Linked DNA regions of Homo sapiens: region 1 is linked to region 2. Evidence: fine-mapped expression QTL. A gene starts in region 2. The other region holds a variant in brackets. All regions are shown on one strand. Distances are from middle to middle.

Region 1 (9,854 bases), 120 kb before region 2:
TAATATCCTCAACCAGAAAATATAGAAGTTGGCCTAGGAAGCTACCAACATCCCTCCTGCTCTGACATTCTGTGGGACTGCACTTCTCATGGCAATTACCATCTGGTGGTTGTACCTCAGAAAATATTCTCTCTGGGCCTCAGTTTCCTCATTTGCAAAAGTGGTGCCCATACAATAGACACCTCACAAAGAGGTTGTGGATTTCAAGCGGGACTGTGTACATAGAAGCAGACAGCACAGTGAGTGCACACAGTAGGAACTCAATAACTCTTAATTTGTAACATCTCCCAGAGTCTCCATCTGTGAAACAGAAATAATACTTGCCAATCTAGCTTGTGAAAATGTATATAGAGCAATGAATAGAGAACGAAAGGGGCTTGGAATTAAGAAAAGCAAATGCAAATGACAGGAGCTATTATTATGCAAAAATGGACTGAAGTCAGAGTTTAAGAGCAGGAGCAGATTTGATGTGCCTGATTAATTTATTAAACAGACTAAAACCATAATTAGAGAAGTCTGCTTAAACCCCTGGACTTGTCTCAGATAAGATTAAAAGAGGGAAGGCAAAAGAGGAATCTCAGATGTTTCCACGGCTTGCTGGGCCCAGAAACGAGGCCAAGAGGAGAGAGGGAGGCCAAGGGAGGGGCAAGGGTGCTAAAATGACTGTTAGAGGAAAGGAGCTGCCGAAGCCAAGGGAGCAGCTGGGAGTAGAGGCGATGACAGCTGAAGAAAGGGATTATTTCAGAACTGTTCCCTGTGGCCTCTTTAGCTTTGGCTCTCATTAAAATGAGGGGAATGAGCTAGAGGAAATCTTGCTTCCCTTTTTATGAGAAAGGGTGAGCCTTGTTTGCCCAGGAGGGGAATTGCCACAAAAGAAGAGTGTGCCTGTCTCAGCTTAGAAGTCCTACAGAGAAGGAGCACTCATACCCTTAGGCAATGGGTCCTCTCATGGAGGCCCCGAGGGAAGCAGGTGCCATGGGCTGATCGAAGCTCTTGGGCAGAAATCCAGGCTTGGCTCTAGGTTATTTTTTTCTAACATTTTATTATGAAAAATCTCATATGGCACAGTTGAGGGCACTTTTTAGTGAACACTGGCATAGCCCCACCTAAATTCTATCATTATAGTTTTACTATCTGTGCTTTGTTGCATCTGTCCATTCAGCTATCCCTCTACCCATCCATTACTTCTTCCTAATTTTGGTGCATTTTGAAGTAAATTACAGGCTTCAATATGTTTCCATCTAAACACTTCATTTGATGTAAAATTTACATGTTATGAAATGCACAAATACTAAGTCTACAGGTGCCTCATTTTGACAAACATATGCACCTGTGTAACCCAAACCCGTATCAAGATACAGAACACCATCACCTCAGGCTTGACTACAGATTTGCTACATGACCCTGGACAAGATCTTGCTTAACTTTGATCCCAGCCTGTCCCCAGCCTTTCTGATCATGGAACGCTTTTTCCAAGTGCCATGTTCAAAAATTTTGTCTTAAACAATTAAGCCTACATGGAACCTTAAATACCATTTAGTTCAAGCCCCCATATTCTAGTCAAAGGAATCTGAAGATTGGATATATTATTTATCCAAAGTCTCTAAATTGGTGGCACAGTTATAACAGGAAATTAATATTTATTGAGCAACTTCTCCAAACCAGGAAATATACTAGGTGCTCTATATGTGAATGTGAACCCTCACCACAACCTGCCTCACAGGACTATTGTAAAGATGAAATAAGATTAAATATGCAGAGTGCCTGGCACAGAGCAGACACCAAATGTCATCACTGCTTTTCTCTTGAGCCCCACATTTACATTTTAACACGTTCATACCGCTGAGATAGTAAATGTAGATGCTTCATCCCATTTAGTTATCACAATAACCCTGTGCATGCTTTACAGGTGACGATATTGCTTGTTTCTGATCATTATTAGTGAATGATGGTAGCACTAGGACTCAGACTCAGTCTCCTGACCTCAAATAATTTCAGGCAGTGAGATTTAGGAGCTTTGTTTATGTTCCTCCCAGGCCATCTGGAGCTAGAGTGGAAGGGCAATTTGAAAATGCTATGAAAGATATATTTGGTTTAAGTGACAGAAACCCAACTTAAACTGGCTAAATAGAAGAAAAGGGAATGTGTTGGTGCCTATAAGAGAAAGTTTTGGTAATGATCTAGCTTTAGGCATGGCATTGATTGATTTAGGGCTTTACATGATGTTACCAGGGATCTGACTTTCTCTCTCTCTGCACTCCCATCCCCTCAAATTTTCTCGTATCTCGGCTCCGTTCTCAAGCAGCCCCACCCTCATGGAGGCAAGATGGCCATCAGCAGGCCATGGTTTACATCTCTCCAGATTAGCAATCTCAAAAGAAAAAGAAAATTTCTTTTGCAATATCTGGCAAAAATCCAAGGATTGGTTTTACTGAACCAGGTTGTTTTATGTGTCTATTCTTGAAACAATCACTTTTTCAAAAAGGACAGAATCTATTAACTGGCCACCACGGGTTATGAGCTACTGCTGTAACCAGAGGTGGGGTCACCTCCTCCGGAGCCCCACAGACTGAAAAGAAGAAAGAGATGGTGTCCCCTATGAAAATCAACATGCTATTATCAGAAGAAAGGGAAAAGGGATGCTGGGAAGCAAAGTCTAGTTAACAAAAACAAGTTCAACAAAACTAGTTGGTGACCTGGATCAACTTGAACTATTGAAAGTGGGTTTTCCAGAAAAGTTTCTCCCAGATATGATTGCTCATCCAAATCTCTGGAAGAGTTGTTTCAATACAGATTCCATGGCCCCACCCAAGGCCTACAGAATCAGAATCCCTGCTGCCAGGGGTCTTTATGGAGTTTTGCTTTATTTTTAACACAGGCATGATTGATTCTATCACTGGCCATTGGTGATTGAATTCACTCTCTAGGGCCTCTTCCTTCCCAGAGTGGGGAGCATTGAAAGCTGCAAACTTCTAATTACCTGTTTGGTCTTCCTGGCCTCCTGCCCCATCCTGAAGCTATCTAGGGGCCCATGAAAGGTCACATCATTAGCATAAACTCAGGTATAGTTGAAAGGGGCTCATTATGAATAACAAGATACACTCCTATCACTCAGGAAATTCCAAGGGTTTTAGAAACTGAAGACAAAGACCAAATTTTTTTTTATTTTTTTATTGTCTTAAACAAGCCTACATGGAACCTTGAATACCATTTAGTTCAAGCCCCCATATTATAGTCAAAGGAATCTGAAGATTGGCGATATTATTTATCCAAAGTCACTGAACTGGTGGCACAGTTACAACAGGAAATTAATATTTATTGAGAAACTCTATAAGAACACAGTTCTTATTAGAGGTTTATAGATCATGCCTAAAAAGGGAAGCTCAAATGACAATCCATTAGGGTAAAGTCCAGCTGAAGTTCTTACTGCCTCATATAACCACTAAGAAAATGCTGAGCCATTCCCTTATTCCCTGATTTAATAAAGGATTTGGAGTCAAAGAATCAATGCATTCATGTGTTGACCTTCCAGGGAACTTACCTGATTTGTCTCAGGCATCCTTAGTGCCTTAGCCCAGGGATCCCAAGATACATGAGGTCCACTCCAAACCCTTCCCAGGAAGGTCTCTAACCATCTATCCCCAAGGATGCCCAGTGTCATGCCCCACCCCCTCGCAGTACTCTCTTACTTCCCTCAGAGATGTTCAGGCATCAGTGAAATTCTCAATAACAACTCCATTTTAGAGGTGTTTTTCCCCCAGAGGAATTACTATGATGGTAGCCATTTTGAATGTCAGGCCATGAGGGAGCTACTTCTGCTTACATGGGCCTTGTGGCCATCATTCCTGGGGCATGTGAGGTAGGATGTGAAAGGGCATGTGCTCATAGCTTCTCTTTTTCTTAGCACAGATGACTGAAATAAGAAAAGGTTGAGGCAAAAATTAGAAGAAGTCAGCAAAGTTTCTTTGGGCCATCCATCTCCTGTTTTGGTTCCCTTCTCCCACAGTCTTTCCCTTCCCCTTTACAGGTTCCCAGTGACTTCCTCCTTTCATACCTCACTGGAAGCAACATAGGAAAGGGACAGGGAAAGGAAGGACAAAAGAGAAGACAGAGCCCAGGGACACTCAGCATGGTGCAGCCAAGGGAAGCATGAAGTTGAGAAGAACCAGGACAAGTGACTTTTGATTGAGTTGACGTTGATATTGCTCATACATGAAAATGATATCAGAAAAAATTACCGGAAAGCAAATTGCAGATTCTTCAAAACTCAATATGTGGGAAGAAAAGAACCAAAAATGCATTTTTGCTGAGTAAAATGAATAGAAAAGTCATCTTGTTCTATAATCCCAAAGTAGACTCTAAAATTGGTCTCCATATCATTGGCACCACCCAGGTCTGTCCCAGCCACTGTCACCTGGACTCTCTGTGCCTATTCTTTTCCCATCTATGGCATTCATTAGAGAGGCTAAAATTTGTGTGGGATCTTAGAGGGAAGAATGGCATGTAGAGAAAAGCATCATGAGACAGGGACTCAAAATGCAGGCTCTAGTCTCAAAAAAAAAAAAAAAAAAAAAATGCAGGCTCTAGTCCCCCCCTGACAGTGATTAGTGTGAACTGGGATAAATCAAATCCCCATTCTGGGCCATAGTCTCCTAAGCTTGGATGATAATCTTTAAGATTACTTCCAGCTTTTATGTTTCAAGAGACAATGCATTCTGTGTTCATTCCCCCCCGATTCAATAATTTCTCCTAAAGTGCTCTAAAGTAAACGTACTCGTCTTAGCTTAGACACATGAGTGACAGAGAACTCTGCCTCCCAGGGCATTTACTCCTTGTTGGTCGATTTGTGGTTTCAGAATATGCCTCTCTGTAGTTTCCTCCCATTGATCTTAGTCTGGACACTAGAATAATCCAGAACAAGAGACCCTACCTGTCCACATGATAGCAGTTTAAATATTTAAAGACATTATCCTGACCTCCATTCTCAAGTTACCCTCTCCACTTCCTTTCACTCTATGTAAATGATTTTCAGACACCTCAACATCTTTCTTGCCTA[T/C]GCGGGGCTCCTCCCTAGTTTATCAATGCCCATCTTAAAATGTAGTTGCCCAAATTAAATTGTATATCCTTGTGATCTCAGCAGATAGCTCAAAGACTATCTCTAGTAATCTCAGAAACTGCTTCTCCGAATGTTTTGGTTTTATTAGTAGTGAAACAACAGCATGCACTGGCTGTTGATGTGGTGCTGATGGTGGTGGCTGATGTTTAAACCAGCTACATTATACTGTTGCTTCTCAGAGGTGGGGTTCCAGCTGAGCCTGAACTGGATTCAAAAGTTGCAAGTACAGTATATGAAGGATGGCTATTAATGGTGACCCACCGGCATTGATCATTCTGTAGCAGGTGATTTTCATGGAGGAAGAAGCCTGTGGGAGGGGTCTGGTGCCAGAGTGCCTGGGGATGGAAATGTGAAGTAGTGAGGACACGAGAAGTCAGTCAAAATTGTAGCCTTTAAGATAGCTTAGATCTGCGGAGAGTGGGGTTGGGAGTTAAATTAGGGTATACACAAGACTATGTGGGCCCGGGCACAACAGCCGACAGAAACTGGAGGAGGCAGCACCCTCCCTATTTCTGCTCATGACCTAGTGGAGTCCCATGGAACACCCTGCAGGCAGTAAGCAATAGGCAAGGGGGCAGGGGCAGGATCTGTTCCTAATGTAGCATGGGTGACATTTGGAGGATTCCAAGGAAAGCTTATGGGCTCTCTGAAGATGAACATGATCCCGTCTTTGGCACTGCCGGGGAAAACTGAGCTGGTAAGGTTCAATTATTACCGGTAATGAGAGCTCATTGGAACCAATAAACTGATGATGCAAATACTATTTGGGGTATATTAATATTAACTAACAGTTAATGTGACCTCTTTCAAATTCATGTCAATTTAAGACATTCAAGACTTCTCTGAAAAGTTCCCAGTAATGTCAAATATGCTGGCTTGCCTACTATACTTTGAGTAACAAGGAATTATAACACATGGCCATAGATCTCTAAAAGAATAGTATTGAGCTAAACAGTGCCCTGAACTTGAACTACAGGGTTGGTTTCATTGCTCTCTGCTTTGCTTCCATTTTTATAAATCCTCAGAAACTTCCCCTTACTTGCTAAAATTTAGACCCTGCTCACAACATTTTTGCCATCTTTGTGTGGTTACTGAAAATAAAGAGAAAACCTCATTTGTAAAGGAAATGCCTAGGAAGCAAAGCTGTCTACTTTTGGGAAGGGAAGAAATCTCCTTTTCTGAAGGACATATTAAAATTAATCATAGAAACAGATTTTGAACTTTCATCATATTTGACCTGACATTTGATTTTCCAGAATGACTAATAAATGAGAGAAGAGAGAAAAAGCGAAGTCATTTGAATATGATCCCTTCCCTTCCTTAATCTCAATATAAACTATCTAGGGTTGTGAAGAGACTTTAAAACGTAAAATCAAAACATGTGCTGGTGAGCTTCTAAATCTTATCATTTTGGATCCAGGGTGGTGCAGAAATGAGAGGGGTAGATGAGGGACTACAAAGAACAGAGGTTGTTTTCACCCTGGGTGACACACCCTGTTCTCACTCAGGTCCCAGCCCAAGAGGTTCGTTTTTCTTCTTTAAGTTTTGTCAGAGAATATTTTTAAAAAATAAAACATCTTTTTTTTTTATTTTTCCATAAGTTATTGGGGTACAGGTGGTATTTGGTTACATGAGTTCTTTAGTGATGATTTGTGAGATCCTGGTGAACCCATCACCTGAGCAGTATACACTGCACCATATTTGTAGTCTTTTATCCCTCACCTCCCCTCCCACTCTTCCCCCGAAGTCCGTAAAGTCCACTGTATCATTCTTACACCTTTGCATCCTCATAGCTTAGCTCCCACTTATCAGTGAGAACATACAATGTTTGGTTTTCCATTCCTGAGTTACTTCCCTTTAAATAGTAGTCTCCAATCTCATCCAGGTCATTGCAAATGCTGTTAATACATTCATTTTTATGGCTGAGTAGTATTCCATCGTGTGTGTGTGTGTGTGTCTGTGTGTGTGTATACATATATACATATATAACAGAGTTTCTTTATCCACTCATTGATTCATGGGCATTTGGGTTAGTTCCACGATTTTGCAATTGTGAATTGTGCTGCAATAAACATGTGTGTACAAGTATCTTTTTCGAATAATGACTTCTTTTCCTATGGGTAGATACCCAGCACTGTGATTTCTGGGTCAAATGGTAGTTCTGCTTTTAGTTCTTTAAGGAATCTCCACACTGTTTTTCATAGTGGCTGTACTAGTTTACATTCCCACCAGCAGTGCAGGATTGTTCCCTGATCACTGCATCCATGCCAACATTTACTGTTTTTGATTTTTTGATTATGGCCATTCTTGCAGGAGTAAGGTGGTATCACATTGTGGTTTTGATTTGCATTTCCCTGATCATTAGTGATGTTGAGAATTTTTTCATAAGTTTGTTGGCCATTTGTATATCTTCTTTTGAGAATTGTCTATTCATGTCTTTAACCCACTTTTTGATGGGATTGTTTTTTCTTACTTATTTGAGTTCATTGTAGATGCTGGATATTAGTCCTTTGTCAGATGGCTAGATTGTGAAGATTTTCTCCCACTCTGTGGGTTGTCTGTTTACTCTGCTGACTGTTCCTTTTGCTGTGCAAAAGCTATTTAGTTTAATTAGGTCCCAGCTATTTATCTTTGTTTTTATTGCATTTGCTTTTGGGTTTTTGGTCATGAAATCCTTGCCTAAGCCAATGTCTAGAAGGGTTTTTCCAATGTTATCCTCTAGAAATTTTAGTTTCAGATCTTAGGTTTAAGTCCTTAATCCACCTTGAGCTGATTTTTGTATAAGGTGAGAGATGAGGACCCAGTTTCGTTCTCCTACATGTGGGTAGCCAATTATCCCAGCACCTACTCCCCTCAAGCATCACACTCTAAAATCTCACACAGAAAACTCTTCCCCACAACCAACCTAAAACATAAGGCAGACACTCAGGGGCTAGAACACAAGCAGAAAGAAGCTTTACATTACACTCAGGGGTCGGGGGTACACAGGCACACCCACCATCATTAGAAGGCCATCTCTGACAAAGACAGCATCAACTCAGGCTCAACCTCCAGGGCAAGCTCGGCAGGGCTGGCCTTCCTCCTGCTTCTGCTACTATCTTGAAGCCCTGGGCTTGGCCCCTCCACCAGCAGTACCTTGGTAACCCTGCCCACTCGGGCTCAACTGACTTTTCTTCTGACAGTATGTGAAGAGCAGGTATGTTACACAGCACTTCCCCTCCAACAGAGGCTCTCTAAGCACTCTATACCAATATTAGCTTCAGAAGGTGAAGACCAGCTTCTTCTTTCAGCTAGCCAGGCCCAAGCAAGTCACGGATGAGAGAACACATAACTTGCATACAGATAGTAGAAAAGCAGCTAACTCAAGTAAAGCGTAGCCAGGCAGGAATCTAAACTGGGATGGGTGACTGATAAAGAATTTACTATGCCCTTCTATTTCAGCCTGCCAGTCAAGTGGTTGTTCTGTCCTTCCATTTACTTATATTCTATTCCTTACCTATTTAAAAAAATGAGGACGTTTATGACAAAAATCAAAAATCCAACTGACCCATTAAAACAAAAGTGGAAGAACCAAGACTTGGATTGAAAAACTAGGAAAACACTGACTTATGAAGCCTAAGCTATAGACAAATCATTGCAATCATCCCCCAAATTAGCTCTGTGCTCCTGGTAGTCAAGGTGAAAAAAGGAAAACTATTAATTTAAAAACTGTCATCTAATAAAAGGAAACACATTTTTTCATTAAAAGAAACAAAAATTTTTCTACCTGTAAACTCTAAGATGACCTCTCTACATATTGGGTTTTCCTAGTTATGATTAAATCATAATAAGAATGTCTTGTTATTTTGGGAACTGATACTGCTGTATGCCAGAGAGTCAGAGGCCACTGTCTTGCTTCTGGGTTTTACATATGCTGCTATGTAGGGAATATGTAATGACATTATGATGTTTAAAATTATACTTCTGAAATGAAAATGAAATATTGAACCTGAAAATCCAAACAACTCTAAAAATTAGCATCTCTTAGAATATCAATCATTTCCATATTACAGTCCCAGTGTCTTATGGAAGGAAGGTCCTTGCATGTTAAATATGGGGTAGGTGAAGCTCATCTCCTGAAATCTACTTTCCTATTTTTTCCCCACAGATGATGATGTTTAATTTTTAATGTTTTATTTTGGTAAATTAAAAAATTGTGATAAAATATACATAACATTAAAATGACCATTTTGACAATTTTAAGTGTACAATTCAGTGGCATTATGTACACTCATTTTCCCTTCCATTGATGCAGCCCCATCTCCACCCTAGACCCTCCTATAAGGAGAAAACCGATAGGCATTATTATTTTTATTGGAACTTTATATCTATTTACCTCTTAAAAAGAAGTTTTTCTCAAAAAGTGATGTTGATAATAAAGGAATGCATGAGGGATTTTCAGAGATGAGAGACAATGAGGCAAAGAAGTCTGGGTAAGAAGCCCTTCCATATGTCCTTAATAGAATACTTTCTTTCCCCCTGCCATCTTGGGGGTATAAGGAAGAAGGATGAGATTTAGAATTGCTACTTTGCCATGTGTCAGTTGCATAGGCTTTTAACCAGCATCTTTCAGTCTTGATGTCCTTATCTGTAAAATGGATGGTAGTAATACTGATATCACTGTTACTGTATACGTTAAATGAGGTAATACACAACAAGAGGTAACATTAAAATTGCTATGCCTGAATTGGTTATTACT
Region 2 (9,854 bases):
CTCATTTTCCCAGACTTCTCCATCATGGTAAAAGGCATTATCATTTGTCCTGTTATTACCCAAAACCTGGGGTATCCTTGATACCTTCCTCTTACTCTCCTATTCCTGCACTTCCAAGTGATCACCAAGTCCTGTGTATCTAACTCTAACAGATAATCTCAAATTGTTTCAAGTTTCCTCTCTACCACATTTTCATTCTAGATCAATGTCTCTATCCTGGTCTTCTGCACTGCCTCCTAATTGGTCCCCTACTCTCAATCAGTCTAATCCATTCTCCACTCAACAGCCAGGATGATCTTTCAAAACATCTGATTTGAGTTACTCCCATTTATAACCCTGCATTGGCTTCCTACTGTGCTTGATATAAAAATTTCTTGATATGACAAATAATACCCTGCATAGCCTGGCTCCTTCAGCTTCAACCTCATCTCATGCTTTTCTCCACTTTGTTCCTCCAGCTCCCTGCACATGGGTCTTTATGGGTCTGTAAGAGTTGTCAGAATCAAAGTGGAGTTACTAGTGTTAAAAAACCGGACAATCAGAGCCAGGAAAGGCCATGAAGGAAAGGTTCTTAAATATAAATGCCTAGTAACCAGAACTATCATAAAAGTCTCCCCAAAAACCAGAACCTTGGCTGGGCGCGGTGGCTCACGCCTGTAATCCCAGCACTTTGGGAGGCCAAGGTGGGTGGATCATGAGGTCAGGAGATCAAGACCATCCTGACTAACATGGTGAAACCCCGTCTCTACTAAAAATGCAAAAAATTAGCCTGGCGTGGTGGCGGGTGCCTGTAGTCCCAGCTACTCGGGAGGCTGAGGCAGGAGAATGGCGTGAACCTAGGAGGTGGAGCTTGCAGTGAGCCGAGATCACGCCACTGCACACTCCAGCCTGGGAGACAGTGAGACTCCGTCTCAAAAACAAACAAACAAACAAACAAAAACAGAACCTTGCACAAATGCCATCACAGTCCTATATAAAAAGTACTTCTGCAAGAACAACTGCCCAGCAACTTCCTGTCCAATTTCAGACTGGTGCCACCCTTGTTATTTACCCACAAGCCAAAAATAATTATCTCAAAACAATTATGTAAACCTCCTCATTTTTACTTTGAAAATCTTTGTCTGCCTTTACTTCCCTGAGTACACACAATTTACTATGGCACACATATTCCCACTGCAACGCCCATTTCTGAATAAATATTACTTTCTTTTAGAGAGCCTCTATCTCCCTCTGTTATTTAGGTTGACAGACCTTTTTGTCAGTTTCTCAAACTGGCTTAGCTTTCTCTTGTCATGCAATCTATGGAGATATTTTCTGGCATATTTGAAGTATGAGTTATATGACTATATTTTATTATCATAAGAGATCTTGTACAATCATAAGCTAGTCAAAATTCCATTGGAGGTAAAAATAAAAATATCCAAAAACTGGGGAATGATAATATTAACTATGTCACATTATTCATATGATCGAATCCTATTAAACCATTAAAAATGTTTATGAATGTTATGAACAATTTTAATGACATGAGAAAAACGCTTCTCATGACACGAAAATGAAATGTAATTAAAGAAAAGGAACTGACTGTAAAATAGTATACAGAATATGATCTCAGCTTTGTTAAACAAAATGCAGAGAAAATAGATTAGAAAGAAGTACTGTCGTCTCTTGGTATACTTAAGGGTAGGGAAGACTGATTCCAGGGGTTCCAGGACCCCTGCATATACCAAAATCCAAGAATACTCAAGTCCCACAGTCAGCCTGCAGAGCCTGCGTATACAAAAAGTCAGCCCTCCGTATGTGTGGGTTTTGCATCCTGGAATACCGCATTTTTGATCCATGTTTTGTTGGAGAAAATCCACATATGAGGGGACCCACATAATACAAACCCATGTTGTTCATGGGCCAAGTGAATACCAAAAAGGTAACATTGATCCTCTGTGAATGGTATATGCATAAGAATATATAAATGTGTATATATATGTATTCCTTCATATATATGTGAAGAACTCACGTGTTCTTCACATGTACACATATATACACATACATGTTCACCTTTTGAACAATGATCACACAGTCTGAAAAAATAGTTTTTTAGTAAATAAAAATTCATTTTCTAGGCTTTATATTTTTATAAATATCAATTAGGTCAATAATTGTCAACAATTATGTCAATTATGTTGATTTGATTTCCATCTAAATAGTATCTTCCTTATATATATCTTTTCCAACACCTTTGGTAAGTGTCTTCCTTACATGCTCTATCTCTACGTTCCAAATGAGTTTAGCCTATCTCCAGGTTTAGCTCTATTTCATCTGTTTTTTATTTATATGCAAATATTCCAAGAGCATGGGTTTGCTAACTCTAAACCAAACAGGGCTTCTCCAACACTCTTCTTAAGTACCAAAGGACAGAACATTCATCTTCATCGTACCTAAAACAGGTCCTTGAGCAAGTAAATGTTTAAAAAAATGCTTCTATCCGATCTTCACCTGGGCACTGCTTTTTCATCTTGTGGACCCTATCTCTTCACTCAGTTGCTAGGAAGCTCCACGTTAATGAGTGCTCTGGCCAACAGACAGAAGCTTATGGCAAGTGTTTTGATACTATTAATAACTTCACTCCTAGTTTCTGCTTAACCCCCCTACTCTTCTCTCTGTTCGATATTCCAAATCTACTTATTATTTAATTTAATTTAATCTTATATTGGAAATATTTATTAAAGTATCTTAAATCCTAATTCTGAAATAAGAAGGAATTTTCTTCTTTTCTTTTACAAGAAGGGGTGATAGTACATACGCTACTGATAACAGAACCAGTTCCTTGAGATTAAAATGAGAAATAAGGATTATAAATTAAACAATCTTTTAGTTGCTACACCTCTTCATAAAGATGAAAATATTGTTTTTCATTTCTACATAGTCCTCAAAAGAGAACTGGAGCCAGATGCAGTGGTATGTGCCTCTAGGCCCAGCTATTTGGGAGGTTGAGGTGGGAAAATTGCTTGAGCCTGTGAGTTTAAGACCAGCCTGGGCAACATAGCAAGACCTTGTCTCAAAAAAAAAAAAAAAAAAGTTCAATTTATATAATATCTTATAAAATCTTCACAACTCTGACATTGGCTTAGTCACTGCAGAACTTAGAAACTTGTATATTATTCTCTGAACAAGTGTCTTTATTTTTCTTCTTCCCATAAACTACCTGCTGCTGGTACCATTCAAAGAGTCTCCAAATGTTAGATTATTGCTTCCTATTTCCTATTGCCCCTATTGGTGGGGGGAGGGGGGCAAAGTAACTGCCCCCCACCAAATATTATTACATATTCTTTTTAGTGAACTGGATATTTTTCTTCCATTTTCTGTATCTAAAAATGAAAACTGATGGTAAAGGGCAAATCTCCAAATCAGGAAGAGATTTTATAAAAACATAGAACTTAAAGGCAAACTGTCCATCTTATCAAAATTAGGCTCAAAAGAAAAATGGTTGTGCATTTTTAATATTAGGGAACTCAAGCAACCAACAATGTTTTAAAGGTTCCATAAGCTTCATGGAATACTAGAGAGTAGCATTCAGTATTTAATAGCAACCTACCGCACAGGCCCAGCAGCAAAAGAGATCTTGCTGCAATAGCACAGTAACCCCTGAGGCAGCATGCTAACAGAGAAGTGAGGGAGTACAGTGTGCAATGGTCTAGCAGACACCAGCTGCAGGCAAAGGCAACAGCAGCACAATCAGTGTTACTACAGTGGAGTGGATGAGAGGGAAGTCAGGAGATGAGTTCAGAGAACTAGTCAGGGACTAGATCACACAGGGCTTTAAAGCCATTGTAAGCCTGTTTTTCTTTTCTTTTTTTTTTCTTTCTTTTTTTTTGTGATTCTGATAAGAAGCCACCAGAAGGTTTTGAAGGGAAATGAAAGTTCTGAGTATGTATGACAAAAATCACTGCTATTTGGAAAAGACTGTAGAGGAGCAAGGGCAGAGGCAGAGACTTCTCAATCATGTAGGTAGGAGAGGACTGTGGCTTAGCTTAGAGAGGGAGAGAGAGGTGGGCAGATCTGGGTAGAGTCAACAGATTTTGTTGGATGCTTGGATGCGGAGTCTGACCTAAAAAGAGAAGTCAAGAGTAAATTCCTAGAATTCCGGCCTACTTGAATGGCAGTAACTGAGGCTGTTTATTGAGATAAGGGAGGGAGCTGAGGGGAAACAGAGGGAGAACTTGGTGAATCTGGCATCAGTAGTTCTATCTGTCCATACTAAATTTAAATGCCTATCAGACTTCCAAGTGGAGATGCTGAGTAAACAGCTGGACATACACATACATCTGGAGCTCAGAAGCGAACTAAAGCTAGGAATAAAATTTTGGAAGTCATCAGCTGATAGATATTATTTATAGCCAAGGAATATGGCTTGGGATACAAATTGTCCTGGGGGAAAGTATGGCTAGAAAAATATGGCCAAGAAATGAACTCTGTGGCATACTAAGATTTAGTGGTGGGGAAGCCTGGAGACACAATGAAGCAGAATGAAATGCAGAATATGGTGACCTGGAAGCCAAGTGAAGAAGAAAGAATATTAGTGAAGAACATTAGTGAAGAAAAAAGAATATTGAGGAGGGAGTGATCAAATGTTACTGAGGGGTCAGGAAAGATGAGAACTGTGCACAGACACTGGATTTCACAAGACAGTCATTGGCAACATCAGGACCATGCAGGGGGTAATGGGGACAAAAAGCCTCAGATGAGAGGGGGTAGGAAGAAACAGGGAAAATGAAAATGGAGACTTAGATTAAATCTTTCAAAGAGGATTTTTGTTTGTTATAAAAAGAAGCAAAGTAGGGGAGCGGGACCTAGAATGGGATGTGTGGTCTAGGGGGGATTAAAGACAGAAGATTTAACAGCAGATATTTGTTAAATGAATACATTTTAAGAATAGCATAAGGAACAAATGACTCAACACAGATGCCCATGATTCAACAGTGTAAACATGGTTTATACTTCAAGTTCCATACGGTAAGGCGTACATGTCACATTTACTTTGCTTCAAATGTAGGTGTCAATATTCTATACCTGCTTATCTATTTTCTGATTTGAATGAGATATAAAGTGGAGTTGCTTAACTCCATTTATAACCATCCTACTACTTCAAAATATTAAAATGTAAGGATTGATGGGCTGATAGGTGCAGCAAACCACCATGGCACACGTTTATCTATGTAACAAACCTGCAAGTCCTGCACATGTATCCCAGAACATAAAATTAAATTAAACAATAAAAAAATAGAAATACAGATTCTGGAAATCAAGCTTACCAAATTAAACCTTCAGAGGTGGGGGGATGCATTTTAAACAAAAGTCCCAAATGCGTCTTACCATCAGGCTTGTTTGAAAAACACTAATCTAAGGAATACTAAACACTTGGAGAAGGACAAGTTCTTCTCCTGTGTAGACGTGCAATGTGGGTTCAGGGGATGACACTTCAACTCTATATAATGGTGTATTTTTACCTCCAGATCATATAGCCTTTCCCACCCTTGCTTTTCAAAATTAAAAGGATAAATTAAAAAATAATAATAAATATGAGAATATTTTAAAATACTTTCTTTAAGAAGTTTACTACCGTGGAAAGCTGGAGAGGTCCTAATACACTGAAAACTAGCTCACAGCTGCCAGTCAAATTATTTTTATCCAAATTAGCTTTGCACAAAAAGCCAAGTAGGAAAACCCATGCCAAAACCTCCAGCACTGGCTCTGTGTGCCTGGCAGGGGCTCATGCAGAGCCTTTAGAGCATTTAAGACTCTGGGCTATTTGCTTATGGTTCTGAGGTGTCTTTTCGAAAATGGGTTTTCTAGTCAAAATGAAACAAAAAGGCAGACAGCTGTGTGGATTTTCCCTTCAGAGTAAGCCAAGTGACGGAAAGGCCTGCCCGCCCCGCTGGGGACAACAGCGCCAGCACCCGCGCCGTCGGGTCGGGTAGGCTGGGGAGGTAGCGCAGGCGGCCTGGCCCCCAGACCACCCCGCGCCCCTGGCGGCCTGGCCCCAGCCCACCCCGCGCCCCCGGCGGCGGCCCCCGCCCTAGCGCCCGGTACTTGCCTGCAGGCGAGCGCCACCACAGTCAGCCCGCGGCTTTTCTGTCTTCCTTTCTGGCCCAGCGAGAGCGCCCAGGGGGTGGGCGTCTTGCCCCGGGCGTCGAGAGTTTGGGGCCGTCCCGTACGCGGCGCGCCGCAACCCAGTCCCCGCGACCACAGCAGCCTGCTCCCCACCGCGCTTGCAGAGCCCGGACGCGCGTGAGTCGGGGGCCCGCAGAGGCCTCACCCTTGGAGGTCGCCGCTTGTCAGGCCTGACTGCTGTTGGCGCCCACCCCGCCGCCCCCGAGGGGCCGCTCGAGGCCGGACTGCTGCTTTGCCGTGGCAGGCCCCACCCGGGACGTGGCGCTGCGGGCCGGGGCGGTCCAGCTGTGAGTCAGGGGTTAATGTGGCGGGATAACTCTCTGCAGAGGGAAGGAGCTCGCAAAGAAGGGTGGAGGAGGGGAAACCGCAATGGGGAACTGTCACCGAGGCTAGTGGACTCTCCCTGCGCTTTTTTTTTTTTTTTTTTTTTTGGCATGTACCCCAAAAGCCAGAGGTCGAGGCCCAGAAAAATCTGGAAAGGAATTCCACCGTGTTTGCTCCTTACAGACCAGACAAACCGTAGATCTTTCAGAGGTACAGCGACTCTCCTGGTTCCCTAAGATAGTCTCGACTTTTCCTTTCCCTTTGCGGCCCTCTCACTTGACTACTGCAGCCAACCATACCCCTGATTAGGGGGTGCAGCACATCAGCCTCTGCCCCCAAAAACTACCCTGCGAAAGATCCTTTTTCTCAGGTTCGTTCTCCACAACCGAACAGATTGGAACTCCACTGAATAAGAGAGAACAAAAAAGCAATTAGTTAAATGAAGCGTAAAGAAGCCTTATAAAGCCCCATTGCTGCCTCAGGCACCCAATCTAGTCATAACCTAAGAGGTCCAGTTCAGAAATCTCCCCTCCCCTTTTAATTCTCAGGCAATCCCTACTCCCTGCCAAAGGAGAACCCAGTTACTGAACATCGGATGAGACCATGGATAGTAAATTGGGAGTGAAGGTCCATACCTGGGTCTCAGAAGCACAGTACAGGTAAAGCTAAGAGTTATTTCCTCCTTCTCTTTCCCCATCCAACAACAGGATGCCTTACTGAAGGTAGGCACTTCAGGTAGTAATTACTTAGTGAAATGCCGCCAATGTAGTCAGAAATACCGTATTATGTACCGTGTCAACACAATTCATTATTCACGGAGTTGATTCTCCAACCACTGCACCTCCCAACAATTCTACCTGAACTCTTTGGGTAAGCAGTGGCCTCCTAAATCCAACTGATACTTTTGTTGCCCTCATTTTTCCTGGGAGTCTCTTTGGCGATTGACAAAGTCGACCATTGTTTCCCAACACTCTGTTTCCTTGATGTTGACAACCCCACTTTGCCTTTATGCTCATCCTGCTTGTTAAAATTCTTTCAGGCCTGTTGGGAGGCCGAGGCGGGTGAATCACGAGGTCAGGAGATCGAGACCATCCTGGCTAACACGGTGAAACCCCGTCTCTACTAAAAAATACAAAAAATTAGCCGGGAGTGGTGGCAGCTGCCTGTAGTCCCAGCTACTTGGGAGGGTGAGGCAGGAGAATGGCTTGAACCCGGGAGGCGGAGCTTGCAGTGAGCCGAGATCGCGCCACTGCACTCCAGCCTGGGCCACAGAGTGAGACTCCGTCTCAAAAAAAAAAAAAAAAAAAAAAAATTCTTCTTTCAGTTTCCTCTGCCTGTTCCTCTTTCTCTGGCAACCCTTCAAAATCAGAGCTTTTCACATTTTCCCACTGAAATACCACCAATGACAGATTCCATAAACACGTACTTCCCTATTCATCACTTAGGTTGCATACATAAAAGAGCCTGAAGTCACTAGTGTCATGGGCAAATTTACTTGAACTGTTCCATCTTCTTGTAAATTGCTCCAAATTTTGCATTGTTCTTCATAATACAGTCACATGTACTAAAAAAAATCTTAAATTGGTTACAAGTTTAATTGCTTAACATTTTCTCTCCAAATGTTCAAGAAAATGCATCAATCACTTACGCCACATATGTTTAGAATATATTCTATGTGCTAGACATTAGGGATATTGTGCGAACAGGAGACACAGTCCTAGTTCTCATGGAGATTTTATAGTCTAATCTGGGAGACAGACAGATATGTAAAGAAGTGAGACAATTTCAGATCCGTGCATTGCTAATGGGGACAGCGAATCTTCCTAGTGGGCAATTTCTAGCTACATACCTGGTTATTCACATTCAAGAAAGGAGGGGACGACATGACAAACTGATAAATATACTGACTTACAGGCAGTGTCTAATGGATTGTCCAGCTTTTAGGTTCTTGGAAAGAACAAAATGGAAAATTTGTAAAAGATCTGTCCGTGAGACTTACAGATAACCCTCTTGGAGTGGTGAGGGCATGTGAAGATATTCATATCCCCCATAAGTGCCTAACAGGATGCATCAGGTGGAGAAGATTTTCAATAATAAGCGGAACAAGATGAATTGTCTGGTAGATGTCAGTCTTTTTCTCCAGCCAACCCAGGGCTTGGTTAATGGGCCCATGTACCAAGTGGCTATCAAAGCAGTGACAGAGGTTCAATAGTATGGTCTTCTCCTTACCTACATTATTTGGCTACTATCATTGCCGAATGCCCAACCTGGCAACAACGTGGAGTGTGACTACATTTCCAAGGCTGGGTTCCTAATATGGCATTACTGTCAATGAGACTTGCTGGCAACCCGGTAACATGATGGTTACATTGGGCAATTTCCATAAGAAATAGGTAGCACTTTGTCTTCACAAAGATAATTCACATTCAAGGTATAAATCTGCATTCTCTGCCTGCAGTGTTTCCACTGGCACTAATATTCTTGACATTTCTGAAGGTTTTATCCATTGCATAGGAATCCCAAAAACATTTCTTCCAACCAGGTACACAGTTTATGGCAATGGAAGTGAATTCAATGGTTTTAACACATGCTTATCTCCTAAAGTAACTAGCTTGATAGAACAGCTGAGTGGCAAAATGAGAGCTCGGTTACAGAGATATCTGGGAGGCAACATCATGAAAAGGTAGGGTGGTGTCCTATAGAATGTGGTACATTAATTTAATAAGCAGTCAATATATGGAGCTGTCTCCCCACTATCAGGATGCACAGGTCTCAGAGCCAAAGGGTAGAAGGAGTGTTTCTGTTCAATAGTATACCTAAGAATCTACGTGAATAATTTTTGCTTCCCATTCCCAAAATGTTGGGCTTGGTGGGTTTAGAAATTCTAGAGTCCAAGAGTAGAACACTTCCTTCAGGAAAAATAATCATGTTTTGATGATTTAGGAGCCGAGACTGGCCCTGGCCTTTTGAGGTTCCTCATGCCATTAAAGTAACAGAAAAGCAGCTCAATGGACTGGCCAGGGTAGCTAATTCCAGTTATCAGAGGAAAACTGTGTTTCTGTTTTACAATGGAAACAAGAAGGCTATATAGGCTATATATGGAAACGAGGAAATTCACTGGAATGCCTCTTAGTGCTAACAGTCCTAGTCAGTGGAAAACTGCAGCAACCCAGTAAAGACAGGCCTATCAACGGCTCAATTCTGTAGAAATGAAGGTTTAGGTCACTTCATTAGACAAAGAATCCCATCTAGTCAAAATCCTGGAGGAAGGTAAGAAGAAGGATTACTAAGCTTGATTATGGTACTTTATTCCCCCAGAAATAAAACCAAAAGATGGTTTACTAGGACGTTCAAAATCAATA

What was found.
Region 1: its variant is fine-mapped to the expression of TICAM2-AS1 in sigmoid colon (GTEx, PIP 0.92).

The regions. Positions count from the first base shown.
Region 1 is chr5:115,472,111-115,481,964 of GRCh38, forward strand. No RefSeq gene overlaps it. Among named protein-coding and RNA genes, the nearest start is that of FEM1C, 68 kb to the right of the region's middle. RefSeq lists an enhancer at 8,329-8,378. The variant T/C (reference allele first, on the strand shown) is at 5,057.
Region 2 is chr5:115,596,006-115,605,859 of GRCh38, forward strand. It overlaps TICAM2-AS1 (TICAM2 antisense RNA 1), which reads left to right and starts at 6,150. Exons shown (of 3, transcript NR_109875.1): 1 at 6,150-6,455; 2 at 7,041-7,151. All of the region lies in intron 3 of TMED7-TICAM2 (TMED7-TICAM2 readthrough), which reads right to left. TICAM2 (TIR domain containing adaptor molecule 2) reads right to left here and starts at 6,474. Exons shown (of 2, transcript NM_021649.7): 1 at 6,092-6,474. RefSeq lists enhancers at 5,796-5,875, 5,824-6,346 and a silencer at 5,966-6,465.